3 linked regions of the Homo sapiens genome follow. The protein of the gene in region 1 interacts with the protein of each later gene in a biochemical or structural test. Each region holds a gene or a part of one and is shown on either strand. Other genes may lie near its edges.

The links. Proteins that work in one complex are often made in the same cells at the same time.
Region 2: the proteins of MAP3K5 (region 1) and TXN form a complex in vitro, tested with the Homo sapiens proteins (3 studies listed by BioGRID).
Region 3: of the proteins of MAP3K5 (region 1) and MAP2K6, one has a biochemical effect on the other in vitro, tested with the Homo sapiens proteins (8 studies listed by BioGRID, with this or other methods).

The regions. Positions count from the first base shown.
Region 1 is NC_000006.12:136,690,702-136,700,185, reverse strand, and holds part of MAP3K5 (mitogen-activated protein kinase kinase kinase 5), read left to right. Parts: intron 1-1,503; coding exon 1,504-1,697; intron 1,698-2,798; coding exon 2,799-2,967; intron 2,968-4,128; coding exon 4,129-4,235; intron 4,236-5,875; coding exon 5,876-6,046; intron 6,047-9,484. UniProt on the Homo sapiens protein: Serine/threonine kinase which acts as an essential component of the MAP kinase signal transduction pathway. Plays an important role in the cascades of cellular responses evoked by changes in the environment.
Region 2 is NC_000009.12:110,241,971-110,247,620, reverse strand, and holds the end of TXN (thioredoxin), read left to right. Parts: intron 1-2,777; coding exon 2,778-2,843; intron 2,844-3,401; coding exon 3,402-3,464; 3' UTR 3,465-3,811; downstream 3,812-5,650. UniProt on the Homo sapiens protein: Participates in various redox reactions through the reversible oxidation of its active center dithiol to a disulfide and catalyzes dithiol-disulfide exchange reactions.
Region 3 is NC_000017.11:69,416,584-69,426,035, forward strand, and holds part of MAP2K6 (dual specificity mitogen-activated protein kinase kinase 6), read left to right. Parts: intron 1-9,452. UniProt on the Homo sapiens protein: Dual specificity protein kinase which acts as an essential component of the MAP kinase signal transduction pathway.

The sequences.
Region 1 (9,484 bases):
ATTGTGCATTGTGAAAATGCACATTTCTTCCTCCCTCCCTCCTTCCTCCCTTCTTCTTTCCTTCTTTCTCTCTCTCTTTCTCCTTCTTTCATTTGTTCATTCTTTCGTTCTCCTGACAGAGTCTCGCTCTGTCACCCAGGCTGGAGTGCAGTGGCGCAATCTCGGCTCACTACAAGTGATTCTCGCACCTCAGCCTCCTGAGTAGCTGGGATTAAGGGCGTGCACCACCCCACCTGGATAATTTTTGTATTTTTGGTAGAGACGGGGTTTCACCATATTGGCCAGGCTGATCTTGAACTCCTGGCTTCAAGCAATCTGCCCGCCTTGGCTTCCCAAAGTGCTGGGATTACAGGCGTGAGCCATCACACTCAGCTGATTGTGTTTTCTTTCCTGCTGTGGATCCTTCTATGATTCTGCATTGTCCAGAATGTACAGTCTAACATCCTTAACTTTGCATTTAATTCCCTTCCCTGAGCTTCGAGCTCCAGTCAGATTTGCTTACTCAGGGTATCCAACTCACTTTCCACTTTCATCCCTGCTCTGCTTTTGTTTGCACCAGTTTATCCTCGCTTGGGCATCATCCAGGAACCAAGAGAAGGTCAGTGAGCCCAGGCTGTAGTGGGCGAGGGGAGAGTGGCAGGGCTGAGGTTAGAGAGGGGCAGGATCTGCGTAGTCAGGCCCTTGTACGTTGCATTGCAATTTCTTCTTTCTCCCAAGAGCAAGAGATGGGGCTTTAAGCAGCTGTGGGAAGTGATCTGAGGGACAGTGTTGAAAGATCACTCTGATGGCAGAGTGGAGAGTAAATTAGAGGACAAGAGTGGAAGCAGGGGGACCAGTTAAAGCTGATGGCAGTGGCTCAGGCCAGGTCCATTGGTGCATGGACTAAAGTGTTGGCCGAGAAGATGGAGGGAAATGGACAAATATGACATTATATTTTGGAGGCAGGACAGATGGGACTTCGATAGGATGTGGAAGGGGAAGGGAATGGAAGCATCAAGGGTAACTTCTGGGCCTGTAGTTTTAGTAGTGGGGAGACAGAGAGAGAGCAGCCTCCCGGGGGGTGGATTTGAGCGGGATCTACTTGCGGCATCACCTTACATGTAGGAAGCCCTTCAAATGTGAGCTTGTAGCATTTTCATATGTGTATGCTGCGCCCTGTGACTAAATTATAAGTTCCCTGAAAGCTGAAGGCCATGCTTTAAACTACTTTTTCCAACAGCAATAACTTAGTGCCCTAGCCTTGAAAGATGGTGAATAAATATTAAATTGATGGATAGAAACTGTTCCACTCTTTTTTTGGTATCATCTGTAAGTCCTAATTATTTGAAGTATGCAGTGAAAGGAATTGGGGAAATTTTCATTGTCGTAGGTCATAAATAAATAATGAGGCTTTTCTATTTCCCTTTGCATTTGGAATTATTTAAAATGAGTAAGACGTGGGATTCCATCTGTGCCGTGTCTCCAGGCCAGCTCCCCACTTGCCGATGCCTCCTCTCTCCGCAGATGTGCACTGGGAACTACACCTTTGTTCCTTACATGATAACTCCACATAACAAAGTCTACTGCTGTGACAGCAGCTTCATGAAGGGGTTGACAGAGCTCATGCAACCGAACTTCGAGCTGCTTCTTGGACCCATCTGCTTACCTCTTGTGGATCGTTTTATTCAACTTTTGAAGGTGGCACAAGCAAGTTCTAGGTAAAGTTTAATTAATAATGCCATTTGGTGATGACAATAAAGTGTTATTCTACATCTTTATTTGTGCATGATATCAGGTGCTCCTGAGATATCAGTATACAGCTAAGAACTAGGGGGAAAATGTTTATTATCCTCCAAGTAGATAAAATAGATGCCACATAATACATTTTATTCACAGAACAGCAACTTGAAATCAGCAAAAAATTAAAAAGTCTACTAACCGCTTTATAGTGATGGTAGAACTAAAAATATATACAAAGCAAGTACAGAAACAATACCAGGATAAATGTCCAGGGACTTCTAGTGTAAGGGCAAGAACAATTCAACTTTAATTAACTCTTAACTCTAATTGTTCTTTCAGTGAAGAACAATTATTTATGTTAATAAATGATAGGCTGAGTCAGGAAGTTAAGGTTATATTATGTTCAAATCATAGGTACATCACGGCCAGTGCCGTGGCTCATGCCTGTAATCCCAGCATTTTGGGAGGCCGAGGTGGGCAGATCACTTGAGATCAGGAGTTCGAGACCAGCCTGGCCAACATGCCGAAACCCTGTCTCTACCAAAAATACAAAAATTAGCCAGGTGTGGTGGTGCACACCTGTAATCCCAGCTACTCACAAGGCTGAGGCAAGAGAATTGCTTGAACCCAGGAGATGGAGGTTGCAGTGAGCCAAGATCATGCCAGTATACTCTAGTCTGGGCAACAGAGTGAGACTCTGTCTCAAAAACAAAAACAACAAACAAACAAAAAATCATAGGTACATCTAATTTATTTAGAACAATTTGTACTGGAAACAGTAAAATGGAAAACAAAGTTTTGGCATTTTAAGTGGTTTTTTGCAGGAAAATTTATTAATATGGAGTACCTTTACCTTTAATTCTTTCTGAAGGCAGAGTAATAAAAGAAATACATTGGCTTCTAAATTTCTTAATAATGCCAGATATGTAAGATATTTATTTAGGCATCTGAATGAACTGAAAACTACAAATGCTTTATAGCTAATGCTGCAATATCATTCATGTCTTTATTAAAATTATTGCTTTTCATTGAAATTGTTTCTAATGTCAAACTCTTTGAAATGTGTGTGTTTTTACCAGCCAGTACTTCCGGGAATCTATACTCAATGACATCAGGAAAGCTCGTAATTTATACACTGGTAAAGAATTGGCAGCTGAGTTGGCAAGAATTCGGCAGCGAGTAGATAATATCGAAGTCTTGACAGCAGATATTGTCATAAATCTGTTACTTTCCTACAGAGATATCCAGGTGAGAAGATGTTTAAAGTGAAATCTTTGTTGTGTAGCATGTTGGAGGGATAAGGGAGTATTAACCTCAAATTTCAGTTTGCTGGTAAGCAGTTCATGTTACTACACGTAATTTTTTATTGACTCTCTTAAGCTTTCCATCCTATAATTTTATGATGAATGAAAAAGACTCATGTGAGTTAACCATCAGTGATTGTGAAAGACTTGTATGGTAAAGGCCTGACTTTTTCCTCCAAAAGAACAAAAAGAAAAATCTGCTGGCACAGCGAACCTGTGGACACAGTCTATTCTACTGTTAGCCTCAGGCACACCTGTCAGTGAAAGCTTTGTTTTGGCAAATAGCAGACATTTTTAGAGCTTTCTGGACATACCTTTTATCCCTTGAAATTGTATTGCTTGAAATTGATAGTGCTGAATCTAACTCGCCTGAAGGAAAAAATATGTAATTGATTACCTACAGAAATAACTTTAAAAATATGTAATGTAAAACACACTAACAGGTTATATCATTTTTATTGACATGTCTTAAAATTTTAAAAATAGGGTAAGTGGAATAAAATCCTCTCCAAGTTAGGGATTTGCTCTTAGGTTTTAATAGTAAAATTTAAATGACATCTGGTTTCTCCTTTCCATTCCTAGCCTTTCAGGTCTGTGTAAAGGCTTCATGTGCTCAAGACAGACTCACATCCATGGAGGGCTGTGGCACATAGGATCCTGTGGCTAGAGTGCTTACTCATGTGACATGAAACTGTGTTGCTACTTGTAACAGAAGTTCAACCCATTGCCTCATGTCCTTGACATTTTTATTTCCCTGAAATTGTTAGAACACTGCATACCGGGAATCTGGCTCTATGGGGAAATAAATCACCCATATTTAGACAGTAGAGCACTATCATGCTTGGTGTTTTTGTTTCTTTTGCTTTTTTAGTTTTTGTTCAACATGGTAACTGTATGTTTCTAATGTTTTTATATATACGATCTAAACCTTTTAGAAGAAAAACAACAAAAACTGTTTATTCTAGGTTCTTCAAAGTGTTCTGTGGATTCTAGTGTCTTTTTAATGTGTTTCTTGAATTCAGATATCTGGTTGTCAAAAGACACGTTATTGTGAGAATTTTCTCCTAATGGTTTAATTCTGTGCTATTCTCATCTAATTTGAAAGGACTATGATTCTATTGTGAAGCTGGTAGAGACTTTAGAAAAACTGCCAACCTTTGATTTGGCCTCCCATCACCATGTGAAGTTTCATTATGCATTTGCACTGAATAGGTAAGAAGAAAAAGTTCCCTTCCAGAATGCGTTAACATATTATTGTGTAACCTGCAATTCTTTACAGAGAATGTGTTCACTGCAGCATTGCAAGAAGTCCCTATTAAAATGTAATATTAGCATATCTGCTTCAGCCCCATGAAATATAGGAAGCATGCATTCTCATTTTTTTCTGATTTATTTTTCAGTAAAAAAAAAGTCGCACACTGTTGGTATATTTAAATTCTTACAGGTTTTCTGCTCTGTCAAAGTTTGTATTTGCTATTCATATTTTTTAGAATTGTAAAAGTTACATGAATATGATGTTATCTTTAAGCAAATACACTCAACACCAGATGGTCATTCACACAAAAGTTTTCACTAGAGTAAGGATGGTTATGTCTAGGTGAACATAGTGTTAGATAGTTATTACCAAGGATAAAAAGGAATTTCTTGGACAGAAGATTTGAAGTAGTAATTGAGAATAGAAATGATACCTTTTTTATAATAGCTTTATTGAAACATATTTCACAGGCTGGGCGTGGTGGCTCACTCCTGCAATCCTAGCACTTTGAGAGGCCAAGGTGGTCGGATTGCCTGAGCTCAGGAGTTCGAGAGCAGCCTGGGCAACACGGTGAAACCCCGTCTCTACTAAAATACAAAAAAATTAGCCAGGTGTGGCAGTGTGCACCTGTAGTTCCGGCTACTCGGGAGGCTGAGGCAGGAGAATCGCTTGAACCTGGGAGGCAGAAGTTGCAGTGAGCCAAGATCATGCCACTGCCCTCCAGCCTGGGCAACAGAGCAAGACTCTGTCTCCAAACAAACAAACTAAATATATTTCATCAAAACAATAAATTTTAAAACATTTTCATCACTCCACAAGGAAACCCTGTACCCATTAGCAGCCCCCCTTCCATTTCCCTCCCAAATCCCCCAACTCTAGGCAACCACGAATCTACTTTCAGTCTTTACAGATTTGCCTATTCTGGACATTTCATATAAATGGAATCATACAGTATGTGGTCCCTTGTGACTGACCTCTTTCACTTAGCATAATATTTTCAAGGTCTAAGGAATGATAACTCTTATAGAATTTTTATCTGGTTTTGTGAACTGTCTACACATACTATTTTAAAGCATGCTACATAAAGCAACTTCCTTAGATAATCAGTTAGTCACACGTAGAAATCAAGCAGTTCTTGGGTTTGATTTGATTTTTGGTATCATCTGTGAATGAGTTTGCTAAGTTTTGGAGCAAAAGCCATTGAAACCTAAGGTCAGGGTTTTGTCCCTACTTGGCTTTATTTACTCTACCCTATTCAAAGACACAGACTACAACTCTAATCTCGTTTCACCAACTTGAACCTGCATATAGGCTGCAGGGAAATTGGAAGGATTGTGGATGAGTAAGTACAAATCCATCACCATTATTAACACAGAAACTCAAAAGAAATCCTTGTTAGACCTAGTAGACATACAATGGGATAAAACAAAAAATTAGGCTTAGGACAGAGGTTTACAGAGGACTCTCAAAATCTAATTGTTTCTGTCCTGGCAAATTTCTCTAATATGAATCAACATGTTAAATAGGGTTTTTAAAAAAGAATTGATCTATATTGCTTCTGTAATGTATATTGAAACAACAATGTTTTCTGCCTTAGGAGAAATCTCCCTGGTGACAGAGCAAAAGCTCTTGATATTATGATTCCCATGGTGCAAAGCGAAGGACAAGTTGCTTCAGATATGTATTGCCTAGTTGGTCGAATCTACAAAGATATGTTTTTGGACTCTAATTTCACGGACACTGAAAGCAGAGACCATGGAGCTTCTTGGTAAGTAAATAGTATATAAATGAGCTACTTACTTAGTAAATCCATGGCATAAAAAAGTATTTGCAAATGAGAGTGTTAAAGTATTATTATAATCCATAAGATTGTGTATTATGAACTAAACCTTAGATTTTATTTTATTTTATTTTATTTTTGAGATGGAGTCTTGTTCTGTTGCCCAGGCTGGAGTGCAGTCATGTGATCTTAGCTCACTGCAACCTCTGCCTCCCAGGTTCAAGCGATTCTCCTGCCTCAGCCTCTCCAGTAACTGGGATTACAGGTGCCCGCCACCACGCCCACTAATTTTTACATTTTTAGGAGAGACGGGTTTTGCCCTGTTGGCCAGGCTGGTCTTGAATTCCTGACCTCAGGTGATCCAACTGCCTCTGCCTCCTCAAGTGCTGGGATTACAGGCGTGAGCCACCGGGCCAATCTTAGAGTTTATAACTTTAGTAAATAATTTGATGAAATTCATTTAACATAGTATAGTAAATTGGGATAAATAGATGAAAAGATAATTTAAGAAATATAATTTTAAAAAGATATTTTAAATAAGTAATATAAATAATAAAATATAATTTTGTAGAAAAATTTATATAAAGACAGTTTAAAAGACCTGAATGAAAGGAAAAAATATACCGAGTTTGTAGATGAGAAGGCTTGATATTTTAAAGATTTTAATTCCCCCCAGCAGGGGTTTTCATGTGATTTGACAAACCAATTCCAAAATTTATTTGAAAGAATAAAGGACTGAGAATAGGCAAAGCAATTCTGGAAAAGCACAAGGTGGAAGGACTTGCTCCACCAGTTAACAAGACTCATTATAAAGCTGTAATGATTAAGATATTGCAGTATGGCTATAGGCATAGACAAACAAAGCACTGGAATACAAGAGACAGCCTGGAACAGACTAAGATATACATGAGTCTAGATTTATGGCAGAATCAGCTTCATGAGCTGTAAAGGAAAGGATGGAATCTGTAGTAATGATACTGGGAAAATTTCTTTATCTGCTTGGAAAAATAAAATAAAGTTCTATCCCCATTTTAAGCCATGCACAAAAAAATGAAATCTAAGTGAGTTAAATACCAAAATATGAAAAAATACTTTAGAAAAATATTTTTAGAATAAAGTGTACAAATTATGTATGACTATTGGATAAGCAAAGATTTCTTTCTTTTTTTTTTGAGACAAGGTCTTGCTCCGTCACTCAGGCTGTAGTGTAGTGGTGCAATCTCGGCCCACTGCCACCTCCACCTCCTGAGCTCAAGTGATCTTCCCACCTCAGCCTCCTGAGTAGCTGGGACCACAGGTGTGTGCCACCACGCCTGGCTAATTGTTTGTATTTTTGGTAGAGAGAGGGTTTCACCATGTTGCCCTGACTGGGGCAAAGATTTCTTAAACAAGGCTTAAAAACGCCATATACCATAAAAGATAAGACTGGGAAAATGGTCTACATGAAAATTGGCTTCTGCTCATCAAAGTAGTAGCTTTTGGAAACAGCAGAGTAGATTCTATTGTGCTTATCTTCCTGTTGATAACAATTATAAATGTTGGAAAAAAGTTGGAAAGCACTGAAGAGTGATTAAAAGTAGCTAGAAACTGGAAAGGTTTTCATCCTTGGATGAAGGGCACCGCATAGGATAAACTCCACATTTAAATGGCTTTTCCCTCAAGACATTCCCTGGTCTGCAGGGAGCAGGACAGATAGAACTCTAGCAGGAAATCACAGTCTTATTGGCCTGAGAGTGAGTTTGAGGCTGCCGGAGGACCTGGACATTGAGTGGGATAAGCCTTTGTGTGAACAAGGTGAACCACCAATAATTTATTTACCTTTTATTAAAAAACTACATACTCTTAAGAGGAGGAGAACAAATCCAAACTCTCTACAGCTTATCATCCAAAATGTCTAATACACCATAAAAATTACTAAGCAACCTGGGTGTGGTGGCATGTTCCCATTGTTCCAGCTACTCAGGAGGCTGAGGTGCGAAGATGGCTTGAGCCTAGGAGTTCAAGACCTGCCTGGACAATATAAAAATACCTTGTCTTATTAAAAAAAAGAAAAAAAGAAAAAAAAGAAAGAAAAACTCTCAACTACTAAAGTGGTGAAGAAATAGGAAAGTGTGATTCATAATTAAGAAAAAAATTATTCATAGAAATAAACCCATAGATAAAACAGAGTTTAGAATTACCAGACAAGGACATAAAAATAACAATGATAATTATATCAAAGAATCTACTTGAAAAGATGAACATAATGGGTGAAAATATGAGGAATTATAGGAGATATTTGGAAACTGGAAATAACCAAATGGGAGTTCTAGAACTGAAAAGTACAATATCTGAAGTTGAAATGTCATCAAATCAGATTAACAGCAGATAGGACACAATACGATAAAAGAGCAATAAACTTCAAAACAGATTATTAGAAATCATTGAAATTGAAGCAGAGGAAAGAAAGAGATGAAGTCATTAATAATTCCAATGACCTGTGGCATTTAGTGGTCTAAATACTTTTTTTTTTTTTTTTGAGACGAATCTTGCTCTGTTGCCCAGGCTGGAGTTCAGTGGTGCAATCTCACCTCACTGCAACCTCTGCCTCCGGGGTTCAAGCGATTCTCGTGCCTCAACCTCCCAAGTAGCTGGGATTACAGGCATGCCCCACCATGCCCAGCTACTTTTTGTATTTTTAGTTGAGTCCGGGTTTCCCCATGTTGTCCAGGCTGGTGTCAAACTCCTGACCTCAAGTGATCCACCTGCCTCGGCCTCCTGAAGTGCTGGGATTACAGGTGTGAGCCACCGTGCCCAGCCTTGAGTGGTCCAGATACTTTTAATTAGAGTCCCAGGAGAGGAGAGATATACTGTTGCAGGGATAATAGTTGAAGAATTAGTGGTCAAATATTATCCAAATCTGTTCAAACAAACAAACAAATAAAAAACAGCTCACAGATCTAGGAAGCTCAGCAAAACCCAAGGAGCATAAATATCAAAGAAAATTATCTCTTGGCACATCATAGTAAAATTGGTGAAAAACAGAAATACAAGAAAAGGTCATAAATGCAGCCTAAGAAAGAAGATACATCAGGGGAAAGAGTGAGTGCTGAAGGAAGCCAAAAGATAATGGAATAACATTAAAGTGCTGAAAGAAAAAAACCCAATCAAGCAAGAACTCTATATCCACTGATAATGTCTTTAAAATATGGGGGTGAAGTAAAGACAATTCTAGATACATCAAAACTGAGATAATTTGTTGCCAGCAGAACTTCACTACAAGAAATGTTAAAGTCTTTAGGCTGAAGGGAAATAAAACCAAATGGATCTATAGGAAAAAGCATATAGCACTGGAAATGATAAATATATGAATAAATATAAAAGATACCATCAACAAAGAAATCACAGGGAACAATGCATGTAACCAATATAGGATATGTATTCAGT
Region 2 (5,650 bases), on another chromosome or scaffold:
CAGGTAAAGCAGTCTGTAGTGGTATACTTTGTATGTAATTGCAGCGCAGATTTGTTTGCACCAGCTAATGCGATGGGCTATGACATTAACCCATCACTAGGTGAGAGGAATTTTTCAACTTCATTATAATCTTATGGGACCACCACATATATGCAATCTGTTGTCGATCTAAATGTTATATGGTGCATTACTATAGGTGTGCAAAGCACTCGAGGACTTCCGTATGACAGAGCTCCTCCTTCATGTCTGCTTGGTGCACCCTGATCACCCTGAATGTATCTTTTTTTTTTTTTTTTTTGAGACAGAGTCTCACTCTGTCACCCAGGCTGGAGTGCAGTGGTACCATCTCTGCTCACTGCAACCTCCACCTCCCGGGTTCAAGCGATTCTTCTGCCTCAGCCTCCTGAGTAGCTGGGACTACAGGCAGCCGCTACCACACCAGGCTAAATTTCAACTTTTTAGTAGAGACAGCATTTTGCCATGTTGGCCAGGCTGGTCTCGAACTCCTCACCTCAAGTGATCCACCCGTCTTGGCCTCCCAAAGTGCTGGGATTAGAGGCATGAGCTACCGTGCCTGGCCTGAAAGTGTCTTTTAAAACCTTGAAGTGACCCTCTGACAAACTGAGGAACTTTAACTTTGCCTCCATAGATTGATAGAAAAGTATGAGTAGTAGCCCTTTTGAAAATGATAGACCAACCTTATTTCTCTGACAGCCAACAGGGTTATGATACTTATTTTATAAATGGTAACCTCCCTCTGACCCTTACTTGGAGTGAGTTTTCAATAGTATGCATTCAATAAACATTCACCATTTTTATTCCAGCCATTACTGTCCTTGTGCCTCTTACTGGAACCTGTACTTTCATGCTCAGCAGGTGTCCAGCATTAAAAGAAAAAGTAAAGATTACCTAGAAAGAACTCCTCAACAGTAGTGCCACCCACCATCCTAGAGGTCGTCATAGTGTTTGTAGCTGGCCTTTCTTCCCCTTGAGAATTCTCCGTTGGTTTCCGTGATTTGGTTATCAACAGTCCTGCCTGCTCGCTTGCTGTCCTGTGTAGCTTTTGCTGCTTAGGTGCTGAGTGGTTCTATATTTCTTTCCCAGTCCTCTTTTGAGTGCCTGGCTGACATTTTCAATCTCTATTGGGCTCCAAACCAAACCAGTTTCGTGGTATTGTCCTCCAAACCTTGCCCTCTTATAGCATGAACAATGTGTTGAGCATGGGGTATTATAAGAGTTCTCATTTAGCATTCCACAGTTGAGGAATGTGTGTTACTTCAATTACCTTTGAGCTGTAGAAAAATCTTTAGCTGTGGTAACAGCCACTTCTAGGAGAGGAGAAAATACGGATCAACTAGCCCAATTTGCGATGTTAGGAATTTGTCGATTTTCTTAGTAGGATGGCTTTCAAAGGTTAGAGCATCAGAGTCACCTGAAGCCCGACTTTAACTGTAATGGTTTAAGATGGGGTTGATGGGGAAACTTGTAGTACCCCTCAGGTAATTCTGATACTGCAGCAAGGTTTGAGAATTCACAAAGTCTTTTTATTTTTCCTCCCGAGATAGTCTCATTCTGTCGCCCAGGCTGGAATACAGTGGCATGATCTCAGCTCACTGCAACCTCCGCCTCCCAGGTTCAAGCAATTGTCCTGTCTCAACCTCCTGAGTAGCTGGGATGACAGATGTGTGCCACCACACCTGGCTAATTTTTGTATTTTTAGTAGAGATGGGGTTTCTCCGTGTTAGCCAGGCTAGTCTCGAACTCCTGACCTCAGGTGACCCACCGGCCTTGGCCTCACAAATCAGTTTTTAATTAAAAATAAGCAGGAGGCTGAGTGTGGTGGCTCACACCTGTAATCCTAGCACTTTGGGAGCCCGAGGAAGGTGGATCACTTGAGCTCATGAGTTTGAGACCAGCCTGGGCAACATGGAGAGACCTTGTCCCTATAAAAAAAAAAAAAAAAAAATATATATATATATATATATATATATATATATATATAGTGTGTGTGTGTGTGTATATATATACACACACACACACAAAATTAGCCAGGTGTGGTGGCGTGTGCCTGTAGTCCCAGCTACTGGGGAGGCTGAGGAGGGAGGATGGCTTGAGTCTGGGAAGTGGAGATTGCAGTGAGCTGAGACTATGCCCCTGCATTCCATCCAGCCTGGGTGACACAGCCAGACCCTGTCTCAAAAATAATAATAATCAGTAAACCCAGTGTGGGGTTATTCCTTTAGATTACTATTATTTTGTTCTTGAACAATTGATTTTTATTTTTTTAGACTTTTTAGCCTTTATATAATCATTCTGTGTACTCTGCCTTCATAATAAAACTGGAAAAATTATGAGCAAGAAATAAGAGGTACTAGTTCTGAGGAATAGTTAAGATTATCATACTGAGTCCAATTGTAGCAGAATTTTTTGTTGCTTCTTTGTATGATACTTAAAATAGTTGAAAATTTGATTGGATTAAAGAGCATATTGGATCGCTGGAGTATCTGATGCTAGTAACATTCTGAACATTCTGCCTGTTAATGTGCCCGTCAAAGGAAGTAAATATTAATAAAACTTCTTCATTGAGAATATAACCGGTTTGGCTTTTGTAATGCCATTATATTCATTATATTAATTTTCATATGCTGAAAAATGTCCTCATGCGGAAATGTGGGGTACATGACAGGGAAAAGTTTCTGGTTTTGGATTACTTCTGTCAAAGCTCAGTACTCGCAGTCTTGTATTTAATCCTCTCCCTTTGCTACTTTCCCTACCAGGATGTTGCTTCAGAGTGTGAAGTCAAATGCATGCCAACATTCCAGTTTTTTAAGAAGGGACAAAAGGTACGTACATCTGACCTTTAAAACTCTAACTGGGCAATAGGAAACCCAGTATAAGTGAATAAATCACTGGAGTGATGTTCCCTTTAAAGATTGAGGCATATCACCAAGTTCTGCTTTTAAGAATTTTTAAATATGCCAAAATTCATTGGCTTAAGTACATAATGTGACAGCTAACTGAAAATCAATCTTTCCTAGAACTAGTCCTATTTATATCATAAAGCACATAGAATTTCTTAGACTTGGGCAGTTCATTTGTTGTTAAGTATTGTGTAAAAGAAAATTTGTACTTGAGCCTTTTGACTTTTCTCTTGATATTTTTTCTTTGTTTATAACTTAAATGAACTGTATGTTATTCAGGGAAGTTTACTTTAAATAAGATTATACTTCTTTTTCCCTCCACCCCTATTCTTCCTTCATTCTATGCTGAATACATATTTATACATATGTATATATATACATATGTATATGTATATATATAAATACATATTTATACATATTTTATGTATAAAACAGTGCTACAGTGCTACGTCTAATGTCAATTCAATATTCTCTTAACAGGTGGGTGAATTTTCTGGAGCCAATAAGGAAAAGCTTGAAGCCACCATTAATGAATTAGTCTAATCATGTTTTCTGAAAATATAACCAGCCATTGGCTATTTAAAACTTGTAATTTTTTTAATTTACAAAAATATAAAATATGAAGACATAAACCCAGTTGCCATCTGCGTGACAATAAAACATTAATGCTAACACTTTTTAAAACCGTCTCATGTCTGAATAGCTTTCAAAATAAATGTGAAATGGTCATTTAATGTATTTTCCTATATTCTCAATCACTTTTTAGTAACCTTGTAGGCCACTGATTATTTTAAGATTTTAAAAATTATTATTGCTACCTTAATGTATTGCTACAAAAATCTCTTGTTGGGGGCAATGCAGGTAATAAAGTAGTATGTTGTTATTTGTTATCTTTTGACAGAGAAAATAGCATTCTCTGTTTTAGCAGGTGAATCCTCTATGCTCTCCAAAAGATCAGCATGACCAAAATTGATGTCCACTCATGAAGGACTTGTTCGTTTTGTTTGTTTGTTTTGCCACGAGGATCGGATCTTGATTCTCCTCGAAGTATCTGAGAAAGTCTAGTTGTATAGGCCAGACATAGGTTCTGTCTTGAGTGGTAAAAGTTGTGGGAAATTATTACTTATATCATTCAAAGAACATTGTTTCTTGTGTTCTAAGCACAGTAAGGGGTTGGGGGTTTGAAGAAACTTTTTGAGTTTACATAATAATGAAGAGCAGAATTATCATATGCCAGGTATCATCTTTCTATTAATTCACTTAATCTTTGTAACAATCCTATTAGATATAGACACTATAATCCCCATTTACCTGTGAGGAAACAGACAAAGGGTGGTAATTTCCCCAGCATCACAACTAGTCATTGGAGGAGCTGGGATTTGAACCAAAGAAGTCTGGTACCAGAATATGTGCCTTTAACTACTACATTGCCCTCAGTGCAACAATCTGAGTAAGCAGGAAAATGATGGGCCCTTAGTTGAGTTTCTTTCCTCATGTGAAATTAGGATGCCAAACTTAGATGATCTCTCAAAATACTAATGGAATGCCTGTTATGTGCCAGGCATCATGCTAGGCTTGGGATAAAGCTGTGACTAAGACACCCTCATCCTCATACAGCTTACATTCTAGAAGCAGAGACAAACAGGTGAATAATAGACTGGTATATTCTACAAGGCAAAACCAAAAACTGGGCGCAGTAATGAGAAGAATAGGGGAACCAGCTGTGCATCAGGTGGTTGGACCTGGGTTCTTTGAGGTGACTGTAAACAGAGCTGTTGGATAAAAAGTACTCCAACCTGCTGAGAGCCAGGGAATCAGCTTTCAAGCAGAGAGAATGACAGACACAAAGGCTTGAGTCAAGAAAGAGCTTGGTACCTTGTAGAATCATCAGAGGAGCATGAAATAAAGCTCGATAGAGTGGCAGGGCCAGGTCAGCCAGGGCGTTATTTGTTCTAGAACGGATGAGAAACCATCGAAGGGTAAGTCAGGGTACATGCTTTGTTAACAAGTTATTTTGGCACCTGTATAGAAAACGGAAACTAAAAAGTGGAAAACCAGTTAGGCTTTTTTGTTTGTTTTTTGAGATGGAGTTTCGCTCTTGTCAGCCAGGCTGGAGTGCAATGGCGCAATCTCAGCTCACTGCAACCTCCGCCTCCCAGGGTCAAGCCATTCTCCTGCCTCAGCCTCCTGAGTAGCTGGGATTACAGGCACCCGCCACCATGCCCAGCTAATTTTTGTATTTTTAGTAGAGATGAGGTTTCACCATGTTGACCAAGATGGTCTCGAACTCCTGACCTCAGGTGATCCACCCACCTCAGCCTCCCAAAGTGCTGGGATTACAGGCGTGAGCCACTGTGCCCGGCCCCAGTTAGGCTTTTGCAATTACCTAGATCAGAGATAATGATAGCTGTGACTAGGAGGACAGTGGGGAAGTGACAGAGATGGAACAAAGCCTAAGGGCCTGTGAGAGGAAGACCCAGGAGTGAATCTCAGGTTTCTGGCAGAAGCCCTGGGTGTCGGGGTATGATGTGATGTCATGAGTGAGGTGAGGATGGGAGGGAGAAAGGGGTGGTGGTGAGGGAGTCAGTCTCTGGCCCTTCTGAGTTGGGTGCTTCTGAGGTGCACATCCCACTGAAGGTGCTGTGCAGGCTGTTGGGTACCTAGTTGAGAGCTCCAAGGACAGGTCTGGACTGGGATAGAAATTTGCAAGACATTGTCATGTAGATGGC
Region 3 (9,452 bases), on another chromosome or scaffold:
GTATGTGTGTATATATATGCATGTATATGTATGTATTGTGTGTGTATGTGTGCACATGATTTAGGGACACACAAAAATATTTAAAATGAAGTTTTTCCTTCGGGTTGGTGAAAACAAGAATGTAAGGAAATCATTATAATACAAGATAATAGGACAGGTATTGAAGAGAAATGGTGCTATTGGAGTTTAAAAATGGAAGTGATTTATCTATTTGGGGGATAGTCAGGAAGGTTTATGAAGAGGGTGGTGTTTACTGTGATCTTATCTTTGGACTTTAGGGTCTAAACTAAATCAGGCTCCTTTTTGCATATTTTTGGGCTCACTATGAACGTGGCTCCCTCTTAGTAGAGCCAGTTTTTGAGTTGAGAAGCCAAAGGAGATATTAGCACTGCACTCTTCCCTATGGATGTGTTTACAATGGATCAGGTACTGGTGGTCCTTCAAATCAATTCCCATTTACCCAGATGAGTTTTCTTAATTGGATTCTGCTTGGAAAGTACATCTGGAATGAACATGGGGTTCTTGTCCGAAAGGAAAATTATTGGTAGAAAGAAGTGGGTGATCATTTTAGAAATGGCAAAAGAGCCAGCCGCCTTGGCCTGGACTTTAAATGTGGAATTGGCCTTATTCAGCTACGCTATTCTCAAATGGCCAAAATACTTTTTGCAGTACCAAACTTCTTTTTTAATATTCTAACCCAAGAAATGGGAGGAAAAGTGAAAAGTGGATACAATCTCATAGTATTGAAGAATTTAACAATATGTTCAATTCAAGGACCTTTACGAACTTTCTAGATCACTATAATTCGGTTTAACAGACCTCTAATTTAAGGCACAGCAGAGGCAAAGGAATTACAGACTCTCTGGAAGCTGGAAGGACTGGGTTACTGCTCTACAGCCTTACCAACAGTGAGATTCCGAGAAAGAATTTCTTAAAAAGAAATTTTGTTTTCCACAGTTGTAACTTTAGGTGGTATGCTTTTCAGCTTGTTTATATTAGCTGTCTGGGGTTGAGTTGACATTTTTCAAATATTAAAGCAGTAGAATGCCTTTTGAGGAAATCTGAAATGTAAGTTAACAGGAAGGGCACCCAGAAAGTGCAGGAATTCCTGCACACTACAGGAAGACAAGCTACAGGAAAAATGTGTCATCTACACTACCCGGGAGAGAAAAACTATTGTTATCAGCCATAATGATCTCCGGAGGGAGGGAGAGAAAGAGGGAGGTAGGGAGATCTGGCATCCCCCAGTTCACCTGAAAATACACAAAAAGTTTGACCCTGTTAAAATACACTTTTCTCACTTCTCCTCCTATTCACCTTTAAAAAATATTAGTTTATTTTAGTTTTAGAGAGCAATAAGTAAATCATGTAAGAAATGCCTATGAGGCACAATTCAGAAGCATATAGCAGAGTGGTAGGAAAGGTCTTAACTCTACTGGGGTTCTTTGCTTCTGTAATTCATTCCACCCTTGGGAAATGAAATGTGTAAATTTCTTGTTCTCTATAAATTCCTTTGTTAGGTTGTACCAGACGGACTTGTCATGCTTAGCCTGTAATCTGAGCCAGTATGTTTTATAACCCCGTACATCTCAGGACACAAAATCAGAATAGGTAGCTTGGGTTTCCTGAGCTTGCTTTGTATTAGCATTGCATTCAGTTCTTTAGAGCATGCGGCCTGTTAACTGTAGGGGGCTTCAGGGGTCTCTGGTTGGTAAATTTAATGTTGGAGAAAAGAGTTGAGATTCTCTTGTCTTTGTTTTTCAGATTAGTGTTACTTTAATGACTCCCCAGTATTTTAAAATCTGAAAGATCTACAAGGAATATTTTTAAAACTTAAAAGAAATTTCATAAATAACCCTTGTTCATTATAGAAACATTTCATAGAAAAGGAAAAATAAGAATGACTAGTTACTGCAGTCTACACTTTGGCATTTATTCTCTTGGACTTTTTTTTTCTATCTATGTGTATGAAGCATCCAAAATGTGTGTAAAACTAAGTCTATTTCGTTCCCTCTTGTTTCACTTACCAATATATGGCAAAATATTCCCAAGTTTATATATTTCTACATTCATAGTATCCTCTTCCATTGTATTTATTTAAATAGAATCTTAATGTTTATTAACTTTCACTATTGTGAATATTTCCGTGATGATCATACCAGTTCCTACATTATCATGCATACTATGCCCTTAGATTAAATTCCAGGGAGCAAAACCACAGGCTTTGAATGTCCAGTTCTTCTTCACTCTCCATTCTCTTTTCTTCCTTCTGAAAATAGCTTTTTATTATTGCAAAAAAAAAATGACATATGCTAATCAAAAAATTCAAACCAAAGATAAATTCACAATAAGAATATAAAACTCACTCAAAGTCATACCACCCAGAGCTAATTACTGTTAGTTTTTTGGGTACTATCTCCATATTTGTATGTACATGTTATTTTACACACTATATATTGTATTTTGTAACTTGCTTTTTTATACTCTACCATATATCTTGGATATCTTTCTGTAGTAGTACACATAAGGTTACCTATTTTTTAACAACCGTGAATTTTAATTTGTAAGAATGTAGCCATTTACTTAATGTCATATTGAGTTTTCAAACAGTTTCCATTTTTTTGCACAGCTATACACAGTACTGTAAGGAATACCTGGAACATACATCTTTATACATTTGCCCAATTATTTCTTTAGGATGATTCCTAGAGGTGGAAGTCCTGGGTCAAAGGGCATGTATAGATATATTGCTAAATTGCCCTTCATAGAGGTAACACTAATTCTCATTTCTACCAATAATATTTAGACGTGCCCATTCTGTCCTTTCAAGCATAATGGTACATATTGCCAAGTAAATTGCTCTTCAGGAAGATGGTACCTTTCTTCATCCTGGGTATAACAATTTGAAAAAATCTTTGGCAGTTTGATGAAAGCTATTAATATTCTACTCTAATATTATTAGTGATAAGGCAGTTGCATTTTTCAGTTTTTTTGACATTTGTGTTTCATGTGCCCAAATTTCTTTTTTTCTCATGAAATATATCCTTAAAATTTTAATTTGGGTGGCCAGGCATGGTGGCTCATGCCTGTAACCCCACTTTGGGAGGCCGAGGCAAGTGGATCACCTGAGGTCAGGAGTTCAAGACCAGCCTGGCCAACATAGTGAAACCCTGCCTCCACTAAAAATACAAAAATTAGTCAGGCGTGGTGGTGCACACCTGTAATCCCAGCTTCTTGGGAGAATCGCTTGAACCTGGGAGGTGGAGGTTGCAATGAGCAGAGATTGTGCCACTGCACTGTAGCCTGGGTGACAGAGCCAGACTTCATCTCAAAAAAAAAAAAAAATTAATTAATTTGGGGATCAAATTATTTTCAAAGTTAGCCAGAAAATAGCAATATTGTAGAGGTTAGGTAATCCTGGATTGATAGTTGGGTTCTGTGTATCTAAACAATTTAATTCCTTGATGAGTTCTAATTTTAATTTTAACCTAATGTCTTAAGCTGCTATCACATATTTTATAAACTCATTTTATTTATATAGTCTATAGCTATCCAGACCTATATGAAAATAATAAGAAAAATGTAGTGATCTGATTAAATTCCAGTCTGAGAAATAGCTTACTTTTGGGCATTCCTGCATTTTCAGTTATCTTTTCAGGCAAAATTAGTTTTTCTTTAGGTTTATAAATAATTCTTACATAGCACCTGGTTGTGTTATATGCATTGTTGCAGAGAAATTTAATCTAATTTTTTTTAGCTTCCTGTGCAATGCCTAATCACAAAAGGTGGTTGACTTAAATTTCCTACATTTGTTAAAATAATTAAGTCTAGAATCTTTAAGATTCTTGTTAAGAATCAATTTTAATGACCTCACAAGTCATATAAGTCAATCAGATTTAACATATCCTTAACATAGCCTTAATAAATGCGCCTATTTATGCATCCTGATATTAAGTGATAGAATTTAGAGCTATGAAAGTTTTATAGTCCAATCACTTCATTTTACACATAAGCTAACTGAGGCCTTGGAAGTGAGTGACTTTCCTGAAGACAGTAGAGTGGAGTCACAGGGAGAAGTCAGATCTACAGATTCTCTGTCCGTAAGTTCTTTTCACTAAACCACACGTGAACACTAATAATCCACATTTATAAAATTTTTTTTTCTTCAGAATCTTTAGTATATTTCACATTTTTAGCTTTGCTTGTTTTTGTTGGGAGCAGTCTGGCAAGGGGGAGCTGATGGTATAATGAGCAGGGGTTATTTTTCTGTGTCCAAGAAATGGTGACATGTGAATCATGGTGGTGGGGTTTCTTACCAGTTCTCTGCCAAAGGATATTTTGCAAATGCTCTCATTTTGATTCCCAGTGCCTACATAGTACAGCTGCAAGTTTTAACCACTGTAATGGTTGTTTGCCTTTTATGGACTGTCTTGTTTGAAAGCCCTTGCTGGGTAACTAAACCTTTTCTTATATATCTTTACATCTCTGACTCTTATAGCATTGTCCTTATAAATAATAGGTGCTCAAAAAATGTCTGACAATGAAAGTATTTTTCATCAGTAGGGATAAGCTCTCATTTGCTCCTAAGTTTTATGAAAGATTTCGGGTAATTAAATTACAATGCAATTTTCTTCTTGTGCTTCTTCTTTGTTTGCACTGATATTCCCATTATGTATTTGCTTAATTATTTGGAAGTTGCAAGAACAGCATGAAAAGCAACTTATAATGGCTGGCGAAGTGTCATTTCTCCTACCTAAGCCTTCTGAACAGATTTAAAGGTTGCACAATTCTCTGCTAACTTTCTTTTTAAAAAATATGAGAAGATGAATTGTCCGAAGAATCCCATCCAATAGAATTGAAGTGATTTCTGCATCCTGTGCTGGTTTTAGGAGCTGGTTTTTAAGTCTATGAGGCTTCTGAAGGATTGTCAGAGACAATCCTTTTTTTGTTGTTGTTTTTTGTTTTTTTTTTTTGAGACAGAGTCTCGCTCTGTCACCCAGGCTGGAGTGCAGTGGTGCGATCTCAGCTTACTGCAACCTCCGCCTCCTGGGTTCACGCCATTCTCCTGCCTCAGCCTCCGGAGTAGCTGGGATTACAGGTGCCTGCCGCCACCATGCCCGGCTAATTTTTTTTGTATTTTTAGTAGAGATGGGATTTCACCGTGTTAGCCAGGATGGTCTCGATCTCCTGACCTCGTGATCCACCCGCCTCGGCCTCCCAAAGTGCTGGGATTACAGGTGTGAGCCACCACGCCCGGCCCAGAGACAGTGTTTTTAACAGCTGGCTGCCCTCTAACAAAACAGGGAACTTCGCAAGGATCACCTCCCAGTGAAATGATTCTTCACTTCCTCCTTGACCACCTCCACTGCCTCTGCCCAGCCCCTTCCTCCCTGGCTTGTACCCCACTCTGTCTCCTTTGATGGTCTTCCTGAGTTGGCCCATGCGGTTCAGTATGTAGTCCATAATCTCCCTCTTTCTGAGTTGAGGAGGATATTCAGGTTATAATCCCCATACAATGAAGTCTATCAGAAATCATCGTAATTTTTTTTTTTTTTTTTTTTTTTTTGAGATGGGGTCTTGCTCTGTCACCCAGACTGGAGTGCAGTGGTGCAACCTCAGCTCACTGAAACCTCTGATTCCCAGTTTCAAGCAATTCTCCTGCCTCAGCCTCCCGAGTAGCTGGGATTACAGGTGCCTGCCACCATACCAGGCTAATTTTTGTATTTTTAGTAGAGACAGGGATTCATCATGTTGGCCAGGCTGGTCTCAAACTCCTGACCTCAGGTGATCCACCCACCTCGGCCTCCCGAAGCACTGGGATTACAGGTATGAGCCACCACGCCTGGCCAAATCATCGTAATTTAGTCAACTCCAGTCTGAGTTGAAGCATTAAATAAGCATTTGCAGCATCCCTGTCATCTGTTTTACTTTCTGGTCTGTACATCCCTTCTTAAGTCAGATTCTTGAGATTAGTCTTCTTTGGACAGACCATTAGCCCCAGGTGGAGCTGCTGATCACAACCCCTCCCTGTACCACTCCCAAGGCTGTTGTCATCATCACTTACCCTAAGCCAGTTACTTTTCATATAGTATGCTTTAGGATGTCCCATAAACACTATGGACAAAGTTGGTGTTATTATCCTTAATTTACGAGTGAGGAAATCAATTGTTGTTAACCAATTTGCCCATGGCTGGATAGCGAGTCAGTGGCAGAGGCAGGATGGATGTCTGACTGGTGGGCCTGTGCAGCAAACTGCAGCTCCTGGGCCAAATCTAGCTTCAGCTGTTGTTTTTGTTTGTTTGTTTGTTTGTTTGTTTGAGATGGAGTTGCGCTCTTGTTGCCCAACTGGGAGTGCAATGGCGCGATCTTGGCTCACTGCAATCGCCACCTCCTGGGTTCAAGCGATCCTCCTGCCTCAGCCTCCCGAGTAGCTGGGATTACAGGTGTGCACCACCACGCCCAGCTAATTTTTTGTATTTTTAGTAGAGACGGGGTTTCACCATGTTGGCCAGGATGATCTCGATCTCTTGACCTTGTGATCCGTCCTCCTCGGCCTCCCAAAGTGCTGGGATTACAGGCGTGAGCCATCGTGCCCGGCCAAGCCTCAGCTGTTTTTAAGTATAGCCCGTGAGCGAAGATGGTTTTCCCATTTTTAAATGATTGAAAAAAAATCAAAATCAATGTTTCATGACACATGAAAATGATACGAAATTCAAATTCAGCATCGACAAACAAAGTTTTATTGGAACACAGCTATGGTCATTCATTTATATGTTTTCCATGGCTGCTCTTTGCTCGACAGCTGTCGAGTTGAGTAGTTGCGCCAGAGCCCCTATGTCCCACAAAGCCAAAAATATTTGCTATCTGGTCCCTTGCAGAAAATGTTTGTTGACCCTTTCCTTTATGACTTTATTCCATCGAATACTGGGGTCTCTTCATGACAGAGCTCCCAGAAACATTCCTCTCTGGCTTTAATTGGAAGTTGTTAACCTGGATAACTACTGCTCTGCTGCTCAGCCAGAGACCTCTTGGGCCCAGCCCACAGGAAACGTCTGAGTGGTGTCTCTCCTAGTTATAAGAATTGTAGGTCATTGCTCATTTCCTCTGAACTAAGTTACCCGTCTCCTTTTGCCCGTCCTGGGGTCTTTTCCCCTTAGTTGTGTTCTTCCTGTTTGCTTTATATTTCTTTCCTTTTTTTCTTCCCTTCGATGAGAAGCTGCTTATTAATTCTTCCCTGAGACTCTTCATCCTCCCCTTATTGATCCCACATTTCTTTAGAAAGTATTAGGTTGGTGCAAAAGTAATATTGTTTTTTATCATCACTTTTCATGGCAAAAACCACAATTACTTTTGCACCGACGTAAGAAATCAAAAATAACTCTCCTGCTACCACCATTGCCTGGCTTGTTGGTTATCATCATGACCCAGCTCAGAGGTTCCATCATTTCTTTTGTGTCAACGTGAAAGCCTCCCTGCATGGGACCAGAGAGGTTTCCAGTTATCATCTCCTGCAAAGTTTAGAGCTGTTTTCTTACATTAACCCCCTAACCCCGGGTGGGCAATTTTCTTTTGAGGACGAATATTCTTTGTGCTCACAGAGTCGCTTACATCGTGGATATTGGGTATATTTAGGAGAGAAGGTTTTGATAGAGGGTCTGAAAATGAAGGGAGGTGAAAGCTACATGTAGACAGAGGAGCTTTGGTAGAATGAGCCCAGATTTGTTCACCACATCCAGAATGATGTAAATTTAAGTCACGTACAAAGAAGTGCTAATTTCTACCATCCCAGATGGTATCACTGCTGTGATTCTTTCTGTGCTCCAGATACTGTGCTTAGTGATGAATGTGAATTCTATCATTTACTCTCACTATGGATCAGTGAGGTGATATCCCATTTTGTAGATCAGCAAACTGAGGCCGGAGAGGTTAAGAACTTGCCTCAGTTACCAAACCGATAGTGGCAGAGCAGAGGTTTTAGCCAAGGTCTGTCTGACCTCAGAATCTGAGCTCCTGGCGACTCCACTTGAGACGTCACTCCAAAATAAAGGTATGAAATCCATTACACCAAAGACATGGTCGAAGAATGAAAAACGAGTGTATTCTGTAGGAATTTGGATAGATTTGGGCATACCAGGGCCAAGTATGGTAATTAAGAAGGGCTGACCTGTGTCTAGCTATTTATAGGTTCTTTTTGACATGTCCCTTTATATGTCTTTTGATCACAGAGTACAGAGTCTGACTCATTTTGACTCTTAAGGTTGAGTTCCAAATAGAAACTGCCCATTGGTTGAAGGAGGCTGATTACAATTGGCCCACTGATAGTTACTGGTCTGGATATACAGGAATGTTATGTTAAAATGTAGGTAACAAATATTGCTTCCATTTGCTGTTCTGTAGGTTGTATCACACAGAAACTAAGCCGACTCAAACCTTGTGTGTTTCCTTACACATCTAAGTTAAATTGTATTAAAACTAACAAGAACGTGGCCAGTGTGGCAGCATACCTAAGTGTGGGGATTTTGCAGCCCCTTTTTGGCTTAGTGACTTTTTTTCTTCCTGGTTGTTTCTATGTAAATGTAACAATTTCCTTGAAATGATGAATGAACCCACATCTCCAGTGTTTTCCTCTTGTACTGGACAGAGTGGAGGAAACTGGAATTGCCTGTTTTTGTGGCAGAGGAGGTAGATGGGGATGGAAATGAATTTCCTTTTAAAGCAATGAATTCTTTTTTTTTTTGTTTTTTTCTGAGATGGCGTATAGCTCTGTCACCCAGGCTGGAGTACAGTGGTGCTATCTCAGCTCACTGCAACCTCCGCCTCCCGGGTTCAAGTGATTCTCCTGCCTCAGCCTCCCAAGTAGCTGGGATTACAGGCGCCCACCACCACACCCAGCTACTTTTTGTATTTTTAGTAGAGATGGGGCTTCACTGTGTTGGCCAGGCTGGTGTTGAACTCCTGACCTCATGATTCGCCCGCCTCGGCCTCCCAAAGTTCTGGGCTTACAAGCATGAGCCACCGCACCCGGCCTAAACCAATGAATTCTTTCTCGGCTTTCTCTCCAGCCAAAGCAGAACAGCTATACCTATGCCTCAGTTGTTTTTCATGATCCCATGTCGAAGCTGCGGAAATAGATGGTCTGGTTGTTGAGTGACAAGTTATTTATTCCCTTCCTTTATTCTCCCTCCTCCAATTTCAAATGGGATGAGAGGAGATAGCTGTAAGCGTAGGGCTAGAATCTGAAGAATCAGTGGGAACAGAATAGTTCAGAGTATGGAAATTAGTTTGAAGTAAATGTAGAGATAACCTTTTTGTGATATTTGTAAACCTTGCGAGGCAGTCTTCACAGTTTATTTACCCCTTCCTGTACCCGAAACACCTTTGCCATTTGAAAAAAAAAAATCACAAACTCTGCATATACCTAAAAAGAGGACTTGGATAAGGAGTTTGTTTAG